Homo sapiens: one gene and its partner. The protein of the gene in region 1 interacts with the protein of each later gene in a biochemical or structural test. Each region holds a gene or a part of one and is shown on either strand. Other genes may lie near its edges.

Region 1 (3,754 bases):
TGAGTTCAGGCAAATGTGGAATATCATATATAAGTTGCTTCAGAATGTGTAAAGTGAAAAAAATCTTGCCCGAGTCATTTTATGAGATTAGTACAACCTTGATGTCAAAATCAGAAAAAGTATAGGAGGGAAGAATTAAAAGTTTATTTTACTTACGAACATAAATGCAAAATTTGTAAATAACGTACTAACTAACTCAATCTCACAGAGTATTTAAAAAGCTAATAGATTGGAATGAAGGTTTACCAGTGTATTCCATTAACAAAAGAATGGCTGAACATCAAAAAAACTAAAGTAATCTGCATTTAATGGCAGAAAACCATGAGATCGTCTTCATCTTAATAGATGCAGAACGATTGTTTATGTGTTCAACATCTATTTGTGTGTGGTTTTTTTTTCAGCCTCAGAAAAATAGTAATAGATAGAATCGGTAAAGTTTTTTTGTTTGTTTTGAGACGGAGTCTCACTCTGTTGCCCAGCCTGGAATGCAGTGGTGCGATCTCAGCTCACTGCATCCTCCATCTCCTGGAGTCAAGAGATTCTCTTGCCTCAGCCTCCCAAGTAGCTGGGACCACAAGCGCACGCCACCAGGCCCAGCTAATTTTTGTATTTTTAATAGAGATGGGGTTTCACCATGTTGGCCAGGCTGGTCTCGAACTCCTGACCTCATGTGATCCACCCGCCTCAGTCTCCCAAAGTGCTGGGATTACAGGGGTGAGACACCACGCCTGGCCATAAGTTATTGGCTTGATAAATGCCATTAATCTACAGCAAAAACCTTACTAAAAGAAGAAAATGTAGACATTCACCGCAAAATCAGGAACAAGGCAAGGATGCCCACTGTTACAATGCCAGCACAATTCTAGATATCCAGATCACACAATTTACAAAAGAAATGTGAGATATAAACACTGGAAGGAAAAAGACACACTCTTATTTAAAAAGATGATATCGTCATCTACAAAAAACCAATGAAACCAACAGAAACTAATAAAACTACTCAGAGGAGTAACAAGTTATAAGAGCAACCTACAAAAATCAGATGTTATCCTCATTAACAATAACCAAATAGAAACCAATATGGACTATAAGATGTTACAATAGCAACTAAAACCATTAAGTAGCTAATAATTAGCCTCCCACAAAGACACATCAGACCCACAAAGGAAAAATTTTAGTTCTATCAAAGAAACTAAAAAGAGGTGTGATCAAATGGGGGAGATTTAGCATCACCATGGACTGGACAACTTAATGTTATAAATATGCTGATTTTTCATGGAACAATTTAAATTCAGTACAATTCGAATCAAAATTAAAGTATGATTTTTTCCAGAAATTCAACAAAATAATTCTGAAGTTTTAGCTGAGTATATTTGAAAAGGAATAATAAAGTGAGAGGGGAGAGGGAGCTCTCTCTCATTCTCTCTCTCTTCCTCTCACTGGCTCTCTCTCTTTCTCTCCACCAGATAGTAAGACCCATTGGTAAGCCACAGTAACAAAAGCAGAAAAAATGCAAATACACCAATGAAATAAAATAGCTCAGAAACTGGTCCACTTGGATATATACAAACTTGGTGTAGAATTGGCTTCACATATGGCAGAAAAAATATACTTTTTTTATTGTAAGGTAAATTGCCTCACTGTAAAGGGGATAAAATGCTAAAGCCAAATCTATATCTGACTTTCTAGGTAGAGCACATATAAATAGATGAGGAAGGGGATCTTCAAATCTTATTTTAGGAAATAATTATGATTTGGGTGTGAAGAAGGGCATCTTTGAAATATCTCAAAACTACAAACCAACAAGGTGAGGCTTGTGGATTTGACCTTATCAATATCAAGGATTTTTGATCAACAGAGACTACCGTTGTCAGATTTTTGACTGAGAAGAGGTTTTACTAAAGTTTAAAATCAGCAATAGTTTGATACCTAGATAGAAGGAACTTCTGTCCTTGAATCAAAATCATGCAGAAACAAGGTGTGAAACTCAATTTAAAAAGTAGTCAAATGTCACAAAATAAGAAAGGGAAGCCCAAACGGCTAGCAAATATGTTGAAATGATCAAACTCACCAGCTGTCAGAGAAATGAAAATTAAAAATAAAACGAACTATCTATTGCATTACAACCATCATTCGGACAAAAAGTATGAAAGTCAAAAATACTTCTAACTGAAGTTGTGGGGAAATTAGAACACTTGCAGAGTGTCATTCCAGACAGCAGCTTGGTGATCCTGGGTGCATGTGGGGTCTGTCTCTGGTGGCCCTGGGTGCATGTGGAGGTCTGTTTCTGGTGGCCTCTGATGAATGCGGGGTCTGTCTCTGATGGTCCTAGGTGAATGTGGGTGTTGTCTCTTTCTCTGGTGGTCCTGGGTGGATGTGGGGTGTGTCTCTGATGGTCCTGAGTGAATGTGGGTGTCTGTCACTTTCTCTAGTGGCCCTGGGTGGAATATAGTAGCCCTGTCTCTATTGGTCTTGCATGAAATGTAGTGAGCTTATGTCCACTAGTCCTGGGTGCAGTGTGTTTAGCCTCTACATACTCATCAACTGCTTTATTATAAGTCCAGGAGGGACGCTGTCCAGCACGTAAGTAAGGAACACAGGTGAAGGTATCAGTCGTGTGGCTGCATGTGGTAGAGGAAAAGAGAGCACAACCTCTGTCCATCACTATGGTGACAGAGAAGTAAAAGGTGGATGTATTCCACGGAACACTCCTCAACTGTTAGGACCCCTGAGCTAGACATGTATACAACAATACCGATAAACCTCTAAAACAAAATGCTGAGCAGAAAACCCAAGTAGCAGGATTTCTAATGCTCACTAAAACCTCTATGAACCCAGAAACCGGAAACACAAACCAGCACAATCTGTTCTGCATGAGCACATGTGTCTTGGAGGACTGGAGGACGCATTGCCAAGCACCTAGGCATGGGTGTCTATGAGGGGAAGAGAAAGGCAGTAGGCACAGGAGGTTTGAAGAAAACTGATCATTTAAAATATGAAAGATCATAAAATCAGAGCTGTGCCCTGTAGGAATCTTGAAAATGGTCTGCCATGAACTTAGGAATCTAATTAGCTCAAAGGTCAGAGTCATGATCAAGTAAGATAAAAGGGGTCAGTACCCACGGCTCATTACCCTGCTCTTACCAAACACTGTGCTCTCTCTGATAAAAGCCACGTCTCCAGCCCCGTCTCTCAGACACCTGTGAAAAGAGAAACCATCAGGGGTAAGCACAGGCAGCCCTCCCCAGCCCCTCCCTGTGGAACAGTAGCCCTGGCACTCAGCATCTATGGGTTTCTACTCCCTGCAGGGCAGGGCTCTGAAGCTTTGGGGCATCCCAGCTGGGAAGGTAGGGGCCCCCTCCAGGTAGATACTGAAGAATGACTCAGGTGCTAGCCAGAGGCCCCCATCTTCTGCTTTGAGGGCTAAGAGGACAAAACTTTTTTCTATATAAAGGAGAGTTTTGAAGCCTCTACCCAAGAGGGTAAAGCCTTAGCATCACTGTTCATGTGGCTGTTTTCCTCAGGACTGAGTGTGCAGGTGTGCCCTGGCCAGTGGGGAAGTGTGGAGGCCTCCCTCTGCAAAAATACGCTAGTGCCAGCAGACAGAATGGGAAAAGGGGGAGCTCAGCCTCCGCGTGGGGGCAGAGAGGATGGGGGCGAATCAGGCATTGCTCACTGTCCTTCAGCCACGGGGAGAGGCCCAGGTGGGCAGAAGGACATCAGCCTGGACACTGCAGCGGTCCTGCCCAACCAG
Region 2 (3,754 bases), about 100 Mb from region 1:
GAGGAGCCGTTAGACCTCTTGATCTCATGAGTCACCGACTTGACACAGTTATGTTTACCTCCCCCTCCAGTCCATCTCATTCTATCACACCATGTGCTGTTTTGTCACTACTCCCACATACAGGACATAACCACACCCTCGGCCTTGGCATTTTGAAGACGACCAGTTGCTTCACCCTCCTGCTTTGCCAAGGCTCTTACCCTTTTCCCATGTGCTCTAGGCTTTTCTCCAGTCTGATCTGCGTTTCCATTCACCTCAGGGCTTCCTGTGCAACTGCTCACAGGCCTCAACTTTTGGCCATGCCCACTCACCAATCCCAGCCACACTCATTTTCCATCCCATTTATTTAGACCACACCATTACATATTCATGCTATCACACTAACCTGCCAGAGTCCAACAGACATTCACTAGAGAATCAAGCAAGACAACAGAGATGGTCTCAAGTGATGTGGTAGACGTCTTACTTTTTCTTCAAGCCTCAGTCTGAGCTGTTCCTATGTCCTCACCCTTTTTCTAAGCAGAAAATTTCACTAGAATATAAAGTATTGATTCACCACCTGCACATATTACTGTCTGGCCATCTCTGCTTTTACTTATTCTCATAAGCTGCAAAATAACATTTTCTTCTCTTTTCCACACCCCTTTACAACCTGCTCTTCCACCAGTGGTCAGTGCCCAAAACCTTGGGGTCATGCTTGACTCCTCTCTTCCCTAACACTCCCTAGTGCCCATTTTCCAGCAGGTCCTTTTAGTACCACCTTTAAAATGGAACCAGAATATGATAACATCTCACCACTTCAGCCGCTTCCACCATATTCCAAATCTCGATGATGATGATGATGATGATGATTTTACCCAGATTATTGCAGTGGTCCTTAACTGACCCCAGATTCTGTCCTTGCCCCCTTAGGGTCACTTAACCACACATCACCAACAGCCCCTTAAAAGGTGTCCATCAGAACATCAGTCTTAAATCTCGAGTCTGAGGTCCTCCCTACTCCATCTGGCCCCTGCTCTCCCTGGATCTCATCTCTAGCATTCTGTCCCTTGTGTGCTTTTCTTTAGCCTCTGGCTGCCTTGCTGCTGCTCACACACACCAGGCATTGCTCCTGTCTTCGGGGCCTAGAATCAATTCGTGCACAATTACCTGAATTTCATTACTTCTCAAACTTTAGGTGTTTTCAGCAATGCCACCTCCTCAAGGAAGCCCTCCTGACCTCTCTACCTAAAATAGCACCCTTGCTACACCCTGCTAAGTTATTGAGAAATAGTATTTTCCTGGAAGCCAACTTTACAACTAATAGAAGAAAAATATGGTTCTTATTAAAGAAAATGCTCACCTATGTATATAATCTGTTCAAGATTTTACTCTATGTTTATTAAAGAAACATTTGATGATCTCCTAATATATGCCAGATACTGTACTAGATAGGGGGAATTTAGAGTTCCAAGTGGCAGCCTCTGGCCCTTAGAACCACATGTGCTAGAGACAGGCATGGGAACATCCAGCCACATATGGTGTGGTAGATGCCATTTGAGCTGTGTTCTAGCTGAGCGAGGAGACAGCATCTCTCTGATTCACGCTTGAGGATTCATAGATGTCTACTACCTTCAGGTTTTTCTCTTAAGCTCTCCTGTGGACTTTTTTTTTTAGTACAAGCATGTGCATGTACTTGCATACACACAGACACCTCCTTGCATCCCCTCTTCACAACTACCTCCCTTTTCACTTTCTTGGTCCAGACTCTCTATGATGAGAGTAATCTGTGGAAAGGCTGTACAGCCTGTTAAAATGCACCACCCCCACCCCCGCCCCCGTGAGTACCTGGTAATGTTGGAGTAACTGTAGAACTCTCTGTTTGTACCCCATGGGCATGTATTGAGTAGGGCCTTGTGGCCATGTTTTTAAAGATAATTTTGACTTTGTCTCCAACATCTGCATGAAGTTGTGGACCTGGCAAAAGTGAAGAGGAAGAGTGTCCAATCAGAAGGTCTAACTTAGTAATAAAAGCAAAGATCAGCAAAGATAACTTGTTTCTCTCCCCCATGGGTTTGTGGTATAATACTCTTGGATTTATACTGCGTCCCAGGGAATTTGGAATCAATACACTGGAAATAAAAATGGAGACCATTTGTTTATCTCTTAAGAGTTCTAGGGGAGGTTTGGCCTGAAAGTCCTTTGCAGAGTACCGGTCTAATCATGGTGGGTTGGATATCTGGCCAGGAGTCATTTATACCCCTCTCATTTCTACCCTTTATCCAATCTTAGCTTGTCTCTTGTCTGGTAGGATTTTTGTGCTCCAGCAACAATGCCATTTTGCCTTGGTGTCTTAGTCTAGGGGTTGAGGATAACCAAGCCTCAGGGGAATGCTGACAGTATGGGAACACAGTGGGGTGGGGATGGGAGTGGGGGTCCCTGCAATTGATAGTTTTAAAGAAATGTCTCAAGACCAGTGTTGCTCGAGTTCTAGACATTCTGTCTTAAAGTGAGTCCTAAAAAATTGAAGGCAGCTTTGCCCCTGCTTTGTGCGTGGTATCATTTTTTCTTTTATTTCCTGTTGTAATTAATTTCCTTTTGTATATTTCTTCTTGTAATTAATCATTTATATTTTAATTTTAAAAGTAAATAGCTGTAATTTGAGAGGAATGGGTAGGATAATGGGGATAAATTGGTTAAGAATTTTATTAGGGCCAGGTGTAGTGCCTCACGCCTGTAATCCCAGCACTTTGGAAGGCTGAGGTGGGCGGATCACTTGAGGCCAGGAGTTTGAGACCAGCCTGGCCAACATGGTGAAACCTCATCTCTACTAAAAATACAAAAATTAGCCAGGCGTGGTGGCCCATCCCTGTAGTCCCAGCTACTTGGGAGGCTAAGGTGGGAGACTCACTTGAGCACAGGAGCGGCAGGTTGCAGTGAGCTGAAATCACACCACTACACACCATCCTGGGCGACAGAGTGAGACTCTGTCAAAAAACAGAATTTCATTAGAAAATAGTTTCTGGGAACTTCACTAAAACTACAGGCATCAATTTGATAAAATATATATAATTTCATCAGTATACGGGACAATACATAGTTTCCAAGAGAAATAAGTAATATTTTACTATGTCATATTATTTAATAAACATCAGTCTTATTTCATTAGATAACTAATTTTTAAATTTTTATTTGAACAACTTTGATATATGAACCAAGAAAATGAAACCCATAGACATGAATTGACGGTTACTGCAGGTAGCATCACATCATTAACCCACACCTGATAAACTGGAGATATTAACATACCTAGAATTCCCAGATGTTCTTCTTCAGCTTTTCTCTCCACTGGAACACGGAATGTGCTATCAGTATACTGCCGATACACAACTTTCTTGTACTTTGAGCCTATGTAAAACTCTCCCTTATCTAAAAATGCATTTGAAACACTTAAAAAAAAAAACAACTAAGGTTAGTATTTGTCTTAATGAAAATGTAACTTAAGTTTTAAACTTTAAATTTTGAATAAAAATATAGTTTTTATTAGAGTAATTATAGTAGTTTTAAATCATCACTCTTCTATCCAAGTAGGAATGCATAATAAGACTTTAAAAGTCTGTGTGGTAGAAAGCATACCTAGCCATCTGAGTGCAGCCATCTGAGTCCTGGCCTCTACCCTGCCACTAGTGAAAATTTCCTCCAGCTAGTCACTGCCTATTGGAACCTCAGTTTTTTCATCCCTCAAATGAGATATTTGAACAGATCATCTCTAAGA

What was found.
Region 2: the proteins of LTF (region 1) and CP form a complex in vitro, tested with the Homo sapiens proteins (one study listed by BioGRID).

Annotation. Positions count from the first base shown.
Region 1 is NC_000003.12:46,451,161-46,454,914, forward strand, and holds part of LTF (lactotransferrin isoform 1 preproprotein), read right to left. Parts: intron 3,201-3,754; coding exon 3,145-3,200; intron 1-3,144. UniProt on the Homo sapiens protein: Transferrins are iron binding transport proteins which can bind two Fe(3+) ions in association with the binding of an anion, usually bicarbonate. Lactoferricin binds to the bacterial surface and is crucial for the bactericidal functions.
Region 2 is NC_000003.12:149,180,178-149,183,931, forward strand, and holds part of CP (ceruloplasmin precursor), read right to left. Parts: intron 3,429-3,754; coding exon 3,289-3,428; intron 1,957-3,288; coding exon 1,828-1,956; intron 1-1,827. UniProt on the Homo sapiens protein: Multifunctional blue, copper-binding (6-7 atoms per molecule) glycoprotein. It has ferroxidase activity oxidizing Fe(2+) to Fe(3+) without releasing radical oxygen species. It is involved in iron transport across the cell membrane.